Regions from separate parts of the Homo sapiens genome. Here region 2 is linked to region 1. Evidence: fine-mapped QTL for protein levels in blood plasma. A gene starts in region 1. The other region holds a variant in brackets. All regions are shown on one strand. Distances are between the middles of the regions.

Region 1 (5,386 bases):
ATTTTAAGAGATTTTGTTCTTACCTGCAAGACCTCCTGGGCCAGTGCCAGAGATCTAACTATAGCAGGCTGAACAGTTTCATAGTCTGCATGGAGGCAATTTGTAAACCACCGAGCACTCGCCCCTGTTAGCTTCAGGAGGGCCAGCAGAGGGCGCCCAAGGCAAGCTTCCTCACAGGTAAGACGGATATGGGCATTCTGTTGTCAAGAAAATCCAATAGAATGGCTCCGACATTGAATTTTTAAATGTTAAAATTAAACGTGAGCACAGTGTCCAATACCCACATTTTACAGATGAGAAAACCTGAGGTCAGTAAGTATGAAGTCATTTGTTCATGGACACCAGCTATAAGCAGATCTGACTCCATCAGCACTCTTTCCTTTACACTTAGTTGACATCATTTTTAAAAATAAAGAACATGGCTTTATCTTTTCCCCATTAGCAAACAACACATGAGCTATTAGAAAATCAATGCAAAACTAGAAAATAAGAAGTAAATCCCATCTCCAGGAGATAATTTGGTGAGTAGCCTACAGATATCTTTCTATGCACCTCTCTCTGTGTACAATTTTATAAAAATAAGATCATATAGTCCTATAGCCTGGTTTTGTTTCTCAGAAACAGATTAATTGTAATACATTGTCTTGCACTCACATAACTTTCATGCATTTTTTATTTTTTCTTTAGTATAAATTCTCATATATAGGGTTGTGGCATCACACAACATGCACATTGTCATTTTAATACCCTTTGTTAAAATGTATGGGCTGTGATATTTACCTCATTAATAGGGCACTAAAAGGATTGGTTCCCTAAGCTCCCAGAGAATGCTTAATTTTGTCAAGTTTTTGGCTAATTTTGGTATATTAAAGAAGAACCTTAGTGTTTTAAAATATTTTATAATTACTAATGAAGTTGAACATCTTTTTATATAATGATTTGCTTTTAGTATTTGGTGAATTTTCATTTTACAGTTTTGCACATTTTTCTATTTCATTGTTTGTGAGATCTTTTTTGTATGTTTATTTGTGAGATCTTTTTTGTATGTTTATTGCCTTTCACGTGTTACTAATAGTATTTCTCAGTTTGTATTTTTCTCTTACTTATTATAATTTTTGCCATTCTGAAATTTTCAAAAATATTGTTATTTTTTATGTTTTTAAAAATAATTTTTAAATTTATATCAAAAGACTGGCCATTACTGTCACATAAGGTTAAAATATTTATCACTGTTCTATTTTCATCTGTCTGGGCTTTGTTTTAACATAAGTATGAAACTGAGTTCTGGATTTCCCTCCCAAATAATTCTTAAAATGAGTTAATTCATTGAATTCACATTTAATCATACTTTATGATTAAAAAATCTGAATATACAATCTAACTCTCAAATAATGGATTGCTTAAAGAGAATAATGTAAATGATGACTTTTCTGGAAAATCAATTCTGGGGTCCATCTGAACACTTTAAGGCAACATTAACTGAGAATGAGACAAAGCTTGGAGAGTGTGGATGTGACCTTCCCCACCCCTTACTTCTTTTTAAATCATTGCGTGAACCTTGCACTTTGCTAAACTTTCCTTCCAAAAGTAATAGTGTATTTTCAATGTCCTCAAACCCCTTTAAAACGCAAACAGAATTTCTCTGTCAAGGTGACCATCTGGGGGAAGGGAGAGGCAGCATCTTTTTTACTAATCTGTGAATAATTTTTAGTGAACTGATATTCATTGAATGTCTGCATGTCATGTTCATAAGTAAGCTGCACTGGGCCGGGTGTGGTGGCTCATGGCTGAAATCCCAGCACTTTGAGAGGCTGAGGCAGGTGGATCACCTGAGGTCAGGAGTTCAAGACCAGCCTGGCCAACATGGCACAACCCTGTCTCTATTAAAAAATACAAAAATTAGCTGGGCGTGGTGGCAAGTGCCTGTAATCACAGCTACTCAGGAGGCTGAGGCAGGAGAATCACTTGAACCTGGGAGGCAGAAGTTGCAGTGAGCCAAGATTGCACCATTGCTCTCCAGCCTGGGAGACAGAGCAAGACTCCATAAAAAAACAAAAACAAAAACAAAAACAGAAACAAAAACAAAAAACCTGCACTGTAGATCTCATGAATGCATGTTACAAATGAAGACACTGACACTTATGATTGAGTAACTTTTCTAAAGTTTCCCAGCTACCAGACTGCAGAGCCAAGATTTAACCCAACAGCTTGACACCAAAGCCAATGCTCTTTGCAGTGAAGGAAGAAAAGAAGGTAAATAATTTAAATCAAACAACACAGCAACAGAAAGCCTGACAAGCCTCACTAGAAATACAATTTGTCATTTCTGGCCTGGCTAATAGCTGACAGAGGAAAACAGATGTTTAAAGAAAGTCCCCCATCATCAACCGCGAGGAGGATTACCTGTTTGGCAACCAAGACTCTAAGGGCCCCTGCCTTCTTCAGTGTCTCCAGTGGTCCCAGTCAACGTTTCTGGAGCTTTTATATCTTCTTGCCTCAGGAATTAATAATCTTTACTTTAGTCACAAAGCGATAATATTATTTGAGAAAAACAATCCATCCATAAAAGTCTTATCTACAGTGAAAAAAATGAATCATATAAGAGACGGCTTCAGAATGTACGTAAGGTGTGCTTTGACTAGCCAGGAAAAGAACCTCTCCCTGTGTGCAAACAGAATCTTTTCTTCACATCACGTTATTAAAACTGACAACATCCTGTAATCTGTTATAAGCCCATCTTCCTCTCCCCTTATGTTACTTTTTCATGGCTGTCTTTTTATGCCTTGGTATGGTGGATTTCCTTTATTTCTCTTTTATTTCTAGAAGGATTTTCTGTCAGGGTCAGGAATAGGTTATGACCCATGCGGTGAGACTTGAGACCCACACACAGATTTTCCTTCCTAAAGCACCGACTCCACTCCTTCAACATGCGTGAGTTTCCTCAGAGATCTACTATTTGAGCTTCTCCCGCAGAACATGGATGATCATGTCAAAATAGCTTACATCAACAGAGTGTGTTACAATAACGGGTTTTCAGTGAAGTCATCAAATAAGATGCCAACAAAATCCTTGTGAGCAGCATAGGACACATATCCCCATTACACACTCAAGAAACCCAACCTTAAGAGAGATTAGAAACCTTCCGAGGTTCACAACACTGGTCAGCAGTGGACCTGGACACTGAACCTTGTCCTTCTGACTCCAAATATAGGTGTTTGCCAAAATACAGTTCTACTGAAAAATAGGCTATTTGAAAAGAGTAACAAGATTTTCTTTTCCAGTATAGATGGCAAAGGGTTAGGTTGTAGGTGCCAGAGATGACTCAACTTTAAACTACAGATTTAAGTCTGTAAAGGACCTTTATGTCTGGAAACTTTAAGTCTGGAAGGGACCATAGTAGTTATCAAATCTTACTCTTTTGTTCTACTGGTGAGGAAATTGAGGCCTAGAGAAACATTGTGACTAGTTTAATGCACAGACAGTTGTGGGTGAAGCTGATATCAGAAGCCAGCTTCCTTGCTCCCAGCTCACTGTTGTTTGGAAAATGCTACTCAACCTTTGTTATTAGATTTTTGCATCAGTTGTGTAAATTCATGGTAGGACATGAGAAAGTAATGCTTTCATGGTTCACAAAGAACATTTTAAAGAATCTCTCCCATCAGAATGTTTGACACAAACCTCTTTCTCTTTAGGCAGCTGGATGGGAATCATCATTGCTTCATGGCACAATGGCGTACAAAGATGTTAACTCCAAGCCTTTCAATTTCAGAAGTCCTGGTCCAGATGTAAGACAGAAAAGTTTTAACAAAATGGGTGATTAGATAGATCTCCTGTGTTTCCAGCAGCCATCCCAACCCTTAGTCTGCTATCCCCATGCCATTATCCAGATTTAAAGACTTGAGATGAGAGAGAAGAGAGTAGAACAGATTAGAAAACAAGATGTTCATAGGACTTTTAAGAGGTCTCTTACTGAACCCTCACATTGACTAGCTCCAAATTAAGGCATTGATAGGACTCACATAAACCTTTGAGATGTAAGAATGTAAAGGACCAGAAAATTGTCTGAATCAAAAAGGTCCACTGAATAGTAAGTTTATTTAAAAAAAAAAAGTCTACATATAAACACCTCATACATGAAATGGTCAAAGTGAGAATCCTAAAAGCCCCAAATCAGCAATGATCACCTTCAAAGTGACAAGGATGGGGATGGCACCATAATGGAGAGATAAAGTGGAAGCCAGGCAGCTTTCGAATAGTAGCTTTATTTATTTATTTATTATTTTTAATTTCAATAGGTTTTTGGGGAACAGGTGGTGTTTGGTTACATGATAAGTTCTTTAGCGGTGATTTCTGAGATTTTGGGGCACCCATCATCCAAGCGGTGTATACTATACCCAACGTGTAGCCTTTTATCTCCTGCCACCCCCCACCCTTTCGCCCGAGTCCCCAAAGTCCAGTGGATCGTTCTTGTGCCTTTGCATCCTCATAACTCCCACATATGACTGAAAACATCAGTGTTTGGTTTTCCATTCCTGAGTTACTTCACTTAGAATAATAGTCTCCAATTCCATCCAGGTTGCTGTGAATGCCATTATTTCATTCCTTTTTATGGCTCGGTAGTATGGAACACTAGCTTTAAAGTGCAAAGGAAAACAACTTTCAACCTGGAATTCTGTACCCAGCTAACCAACCATTAAGGGTGAGTATGACAAAAAGATATGTTAAAGTTATGAGAACGTAGTAAGATTGCTATCCATAGACTCATTGAAATTACTGCTTAAGCGTGTCCTTTGTCAAAAAATAAAATAATCCCAGAAGATGTGTTACAATAAAGAAATGTGTTGACTGTATTAGTTATAATAATGTTTAAAATAAAATTAATAGTAACTTTATTTCATTTTTAATATAAGTAGGAACAAAAATACCAGACAATAACAAACGAGATTAAAGAGAGTTAGGAATGAAGTTAAAATATTCTAAGATCTGATCATGATTAAATTGAGACTTCATTAGAAAATATTAATTTAAGTATATGTATTATCAGAGTACTTTTTTGATAATGCAAACTTGATGTTGCTGCACTTATGATGAAATATTACAATTGAGCCCCACATTCACCAAGACTTTCAGTATAGCAGGAAAATCTTTCTGAGTCGTACACCTTCATATCACTCTTGCCTCCAGCACTAATACTCCATCCAGTCAAATCTGTGCCCATCAACACCACATGTTGGTACTCCCTGGAACAACCCCATTCAAGGTCACACCTCCATGCCTTTTTTCATGTCATTCCTCTGCTTGCAATGCCCTTTTTCTCATTCCTTGTTTGGGTGTGTTTATTCATCTTTTAATTAGTTCATTCAATAAATATTGAATGTGATTAAGT
Region 2 (5,386 bases), 530 kb after region 1:
CGGTTACTACACTGTAACAACTTTTTACATATTGTATTATAGAACAAGCTTTTGAGAAGACAAAGCAACACATCAGCAGTTTAACCAATTGTCTTTCTCTTTTAACAGGCTGGTCTACATTAGATTAGATATAAAAGGCCCAGGTATTACTTGTGTTCGATCTTAGCCACATGGCTGAGAAACATCCAGGTACATTTAAATCAGTGACAAAAGAAAACATTATCCCTTAGTAAAATTACATAAAATAGGAAACATCTCTTACTTTAAGAGCAACGATGGTACTTGTTCCTATGGTGAAAACTGATGTTATCTCGATTAGTTAATTATTCATCCCAACACCTGGTCTTGCTTCCTTTTCCACCTCTAGCTATGTTAACACTAGAGTTCAGTAATTTGTTGATAAAGAATCTTAACTGCAGTATCTAACAGATCTTAGTGATTAAGCATATGACTTACCCTTTGTACAGATAAGTAAACTGAGGCCAAAAGAACTGAGGTATCTTATTAAAAATCAGAGAGCTAGTTAGTTGAAAAGTCCACCTGTCCTTCCTTTCCACATGTCTCACCAGAAAAACAGCAATGGTGAAAAGTCAACTCTGTTTTTAATGGGCCACTTTGTATATTTTAACTGTTAAAATAATCCAAGAAGATAGTAGTCATATACGAAGATCCTTTAGATATAATGTGTAGGACCAGCATTAATTTAATCAACCAAGTCTCCTCTCATTGAATTGTTAATTCATAATTACAAAGATGACATTACAGTAAATTAAGAAATACTGTAATTTCATTCTCTCCAAAAAGTATACATTGAAGTTTGGTGAATACTGTTATATTTTCAACTAGTAAATCAGTGTGCCAATTCTGGGTCTTAGGCATATTGTATATACTGGAATGATATTCACTTTAATTAAATTTGTTTTGAGATGTAGAATGTAATACAGATCCTACGTGTTTTTAAAAGTTCACATCAATTTCAAGCTTTTAAAAATGTATGTACACAAGAAAGCTTCTTTTGCAATTTATATGTTTACAAATGTTGCCATTAGCTAAGCTATATTTTGGAATGTGATCAAACAATATTGAATGTCAAGTCTTAACAGCAGGGCTGGTCTAAGGAATTCCCTCTAAGCTAAATCTGATCCTTTCATATGTGGCTACTGCTCTTTTAAACTACTGTATCCCTAAAGGGCTAAAAGGAAGAAAATCCTAACTTAATAAGTGAAGGCAGCAAGGCATAGTATTTGAATGGCTACCTTTCATTTTAACTCTACTTCTTAAATTCACAATTGGATTTGGGTTTGTTTCAAGTTGTTCACAATTTACTAACGAAATGTGCATCTCTCATTCTTCCCCCAAAAGAAAGAAGTCATCCACTCCAGCTACATATAAGTCTCCAATTTCTGTCTTACAACTAAACGTGAAAACCGAAATACCACTCATTGAAAAAAAAAATATACAGAGAATTGGCAGGCTGCATGTTTATGTGAACCTTCAGAAAACATGGAAACACGCAGCCCCAACTCACCAGGAAAATCAACACTTGTGATCAAACTATTTTGTGACATTTTATGTCTTTTATACATTTCACTTCATATCCAGTATTCCAGTTTTGCACCGGCTTGCCTGTATCAACCCCAAATCGCCTGAGAGCAATCTAGTACTGTAGCAGAACCGTTTCAACATGAAGAGTTCTGCTCATCGCCTGTGGCGTGGTCTTCGAAACACCTGAATCAAACATTGATTCCCCTCCCCCTGCTATTTAAAACCGAGGGACGTCAGGCTTGGGTTGTAGGTAAAGAAAAGCCACAGTAATCAAACAAGCAACCAAAATACCCGAACACGGAACACGCTAAGAACAAAGGAAACACAAGAGTGTGAACAGGAAATGAAGCAACTCTACACCCATAAATACCTTCTGGGGCCGCCAACATAGGTAAAAGTAAAGGTGGAGTCTGAGTATCTGAAATCTGAAACAGAAAGTCCTGTCAAAAGCTACCCCTGGAGTGGATTTGTTTTAACCCCGATCAGGACTTGGGCCCTCCATTTGGTGGAGTCAGGGGAGGCCTGGCCGGGCGGGAGGCGAGGGCTAGAGGGCGGCGAGGTCTCTCCGCGCAGCGTCCCAGGGGATGCGGCGCGCCCCCGACTGGGTGCAGCGGCAGGCCGCCCCCGGCAGCAAGTGCCGGGTGCCATGGCAACGGCGGGAATTTCCCGGTCGGGGAGGCCGGAAGCAGCCCCGCCGGGCTCGCGGCAGCGAACGCAAAATCCGATCTCTCTCCCGGGGGAGCAAAATGGACGAAAGGCGACCCCCCAGGCAGGGGCGCTGGGTGCCTTGGGAATCCGAGGAATCCCTTCTCTTTGCCAGTCGGAGGGGACTAGATGGAGCCGAAGGGGCCGGAGATGGGCCGAGCGCTGCCCCCCGGGGGTCTTCGGCGCCGGGCGCAGCTTACGAGCGCAGCGCAGCAAGCTCCATTCCCGGCCGCCGCCGCTCAGCCCATTACGCAAACCTGGCGGGTCCAACCAACCCCGCTCTGCCGCCGCTGCTGGAACCCAGGAGGCGTGCTTGCAGGCTTCGGGCACTACGCGGGGCTGGAAATACCACGCACTGCCCCTTCGCCTAGACCCCCGCTCGGGCCACGCGGGTTCTGCCCTCAAAGCTGGTAGCTGCCCCAGACTTGGGGGTGGGGGGAGGGGAAGGGGCGAGGCTGGCACCCCCTCTGGCTTTTGGCTCCCGTGTTCGTTGCAGCAGCTGTTGCCAAATGAACCCCGGAATGCGGACGTGCAAACCCTCCACCCCACCCCCAGCCACACACGTCGCGGTCAGAGAACTGGGAAGGGGGCGCGGGGTCCGAGGTTCTGGAAAAGCAAGAACTCACCTGCAAACAGGCAGTCCTCAGCTCTGGACTTCTGGATCACGACGTCGATATCCTTCTGAATTCGGTCTTGCCTTGAACACATCCCCATTAAATAAGTCCTTGGAAAAGAAGCAGCCGCTATTTCCACCCCACCCCCCTCGCACGCTTTCAGCTTTCGTAAATATTCAGTTAAAAATGAAACCTCTGGCCGAGGCAGGGGCTGAAGGCCAACTGGTTTCGGAAGTGATCCTGGGTGAGAGGAGGAGAAGGAGGAGGAGGAGGTGGAGGTCGGCTTTCCATTTCCAGATGTGACTGCCCAGCTGCTGCTCGCCGCTGCTGGATTCCAATTACCTCCCCTTCTGGCGATGGATTGGTGATGACACCGAGTCTCACTTTCTCCTTCCCCCGCCCGGACCAACCGCCGTGGGGGGC[C/T]GAGGGTGCCGGGGACGGCCGGAGAGCGATCACCGGCTGGGCGGCGGGAGCCGACGAGGGGCGAGCCCCGCTCCGGCTCAAGCGCGCACACCCCTCACGGCCCGCACTCCGGCCTTCCACACCCGTGCACACTCTCGCCCGCGGGCGGCGGCAGCCGTGCCCAGGCTGCTGCAGCGCCACCCGCCCGCCGCGGACCCTCCGCGCCCTCCGCCTAGTCACCCGGCCCGGCCGCGGGCCGCCGGGGCTCGCAGAGTGTCAGCCATCCCGGGCAGGAGTCGCGTCTCCCCACACCGACCTCCACTCGCGCCGGGAGCTGAGCGGCAGTGTAGGTAGTGAAGACTCCCTGGGGCTCCCAGCCTTCCCTCTCCGCGCTCTCCCCCCATCACTTTTATGAATTCGACTCCACTTTCTAAAGGAATTATGAGTCTTGTGGCAAACACAAACCGGAGTGGCCGGGAGGGGGAAAAGGGGGGAAAAGAACACCTTTAAAAATTAAAAAAATAATAAAACGAACAAATCTTTACTTGTTGCCACCTCAGATAACACGGAAAAAGCCTTGAAATTACCCCAGATGTGCACCCTCCCCTTCCCTCAGTGCCTGAGTCTTTTTCCTCCAGATCGAAGTATTTCAGCCCTTTTGGGGTGCCGTTTGCGAAACACAGCCCCTTTTGAGGGACTTCCTCTTCTTGAAAAGACTCACCAGTTCTCCCTTCCTAGGTGTTTCTGTTCATGAGAAATTGTCAGAATCAACTGGCACGTTCCAGGGTCTTCCTAAAGGACGGAAACCTGTTTGGCTTGCTTTTTAAAACCACCTCCTTTGACAGTCAGTCCAGGGAAAGCTACAATCCAGGTGTTCAGAAATGAGATACTGCTCTGATTCTCACTTTCTGTTCTGCCTAAGGACACCTCAGGCTGACGTAGCTGCCCCACCTCTATATTGGTTTATGCCCTAGGAGAGGTCTCCAGCAGGCACTTTTCTTGTTGATCTTTTCTCCGCTGAGAAGGCTCCCGCCAGTAGACCATGACTCGTTTTGCTTTGCATTCTCAGTGCCACGTACAGTGCCTGGAATACAGGAGGGTGGCCTAAATGTTGGCTGAATGCATGAATGGTCATTTCTTGCAGCCTCTTTTCATTACCCTGTCTCATCAGCTTTCTTATCAGAATAAGTGCCCAAGAGTGCCAAACTGTTTCAGAACCTTAATCAATTTAGTTCTGATTCTGACCGTGACAACATGATGTTCAGCACGGTACGAATGACTGCCATCTCTGAAGGAGTCTTAAGATTCTGTAGAATCAATGAAAGATTCTATGTTCTAACGCCTTTATCTTTCAGGAAAGAAATTACAAAATAGTTTCATTGTCCAGTCATATTCACTATGAGTTATAAGAGGAAACATTCTATCTAGAATTAGAAATACCATTTGACCCAGCCATCCCATTACTGGGTATTTACCCAAAGGACTATAAATCATGCTGCTATAAAGACACATGCACACGTATGTTTATTGCGGCACTATTCACAATAGCAAAGACTTGGAACCAACCCAAATGTCCAACAATGATAGACTGGATTAAGAAAATGCGGCACATATACACCATGGAATACTATGCAGCCATAAAAAATGATGAGTTCATGTCCTTTGTAGAGACATAGATGAAATTGGAAATCATCATTCTCAGTAAACTATCGCAAGAACAAAAAAACCAAACACCGCATATTCTCACTTATAGGTGGGAATTGAACAATGAGAACACATGGACACAGGAAGGGGAACATCACACTCTGGGGACTGTTGTGGGTTGGGGGGAGGGGGGAGGGATATCACTGGGAGATATACCTAATGCTAGATGACGAGTTAGTGGGTGCAGCGCACCAGCATGGCACATGTATGCATATGTAACTAACCTGCACAATGTGCACATGTACCCTAAAACTTAAAGTATAATAATAATAAATTTAAAAAAAAGAACAAAACATCACATTGTACCACATAAAAAAAAAAAAGTTGGATTTTGCAAGGAAGATAGACATCTGACTAAAGTTTGGCCAAGCAAGGAATCTTTGTTAGTACTACTTCTTGTTTAAGGAAAGAAGAGA

Alleles and levels. Positions count from the first base shown, and alleles are read on the strand shown. Strength reflects both the effect of a copy and how common the allele is.
In carriers of allele C in region 2, the plasma level of the protein whose gene starts at base 2,455 in region 1 tends to be higher than with T alone (weak association).

What was found. PIP is the chance, under the fine-mapping model, that this variant and not a neighbour inherited with it causes the effect. The UK Biobank Pharma Proteomics Project read protein levels with antibody pairs (Olink). The fine-mapping took linkage between variants from a reference panel, not from the people measured, so its PIPs are less certain.
Region 2: its variant is fine-mapped to the plasma level of the REG4 protein (UK Biobank, PIP above 0.99).

Annotation. Positions count from the first base shown.
Region 1 is chr1:119,809,006-119,814,391 of GRCh38, forward strand. REG4 (regenerating family member 4) reads right to left here and starts at 2,455. Exons shown (of 6, transcript NM_032044.4): 1 at 2,404-2,455.
Region 2 is chr1:120,338,841-120,344,226 of GRCh38, forward strand. It overlaps the pseudogene LOC124904391. Among named protein-coding and RNA genes, the nearest start is that of NBPF8, 74 kb to the right of the region's middle. The variant C/T (reference allele first, on the strand shown) is at 3,288.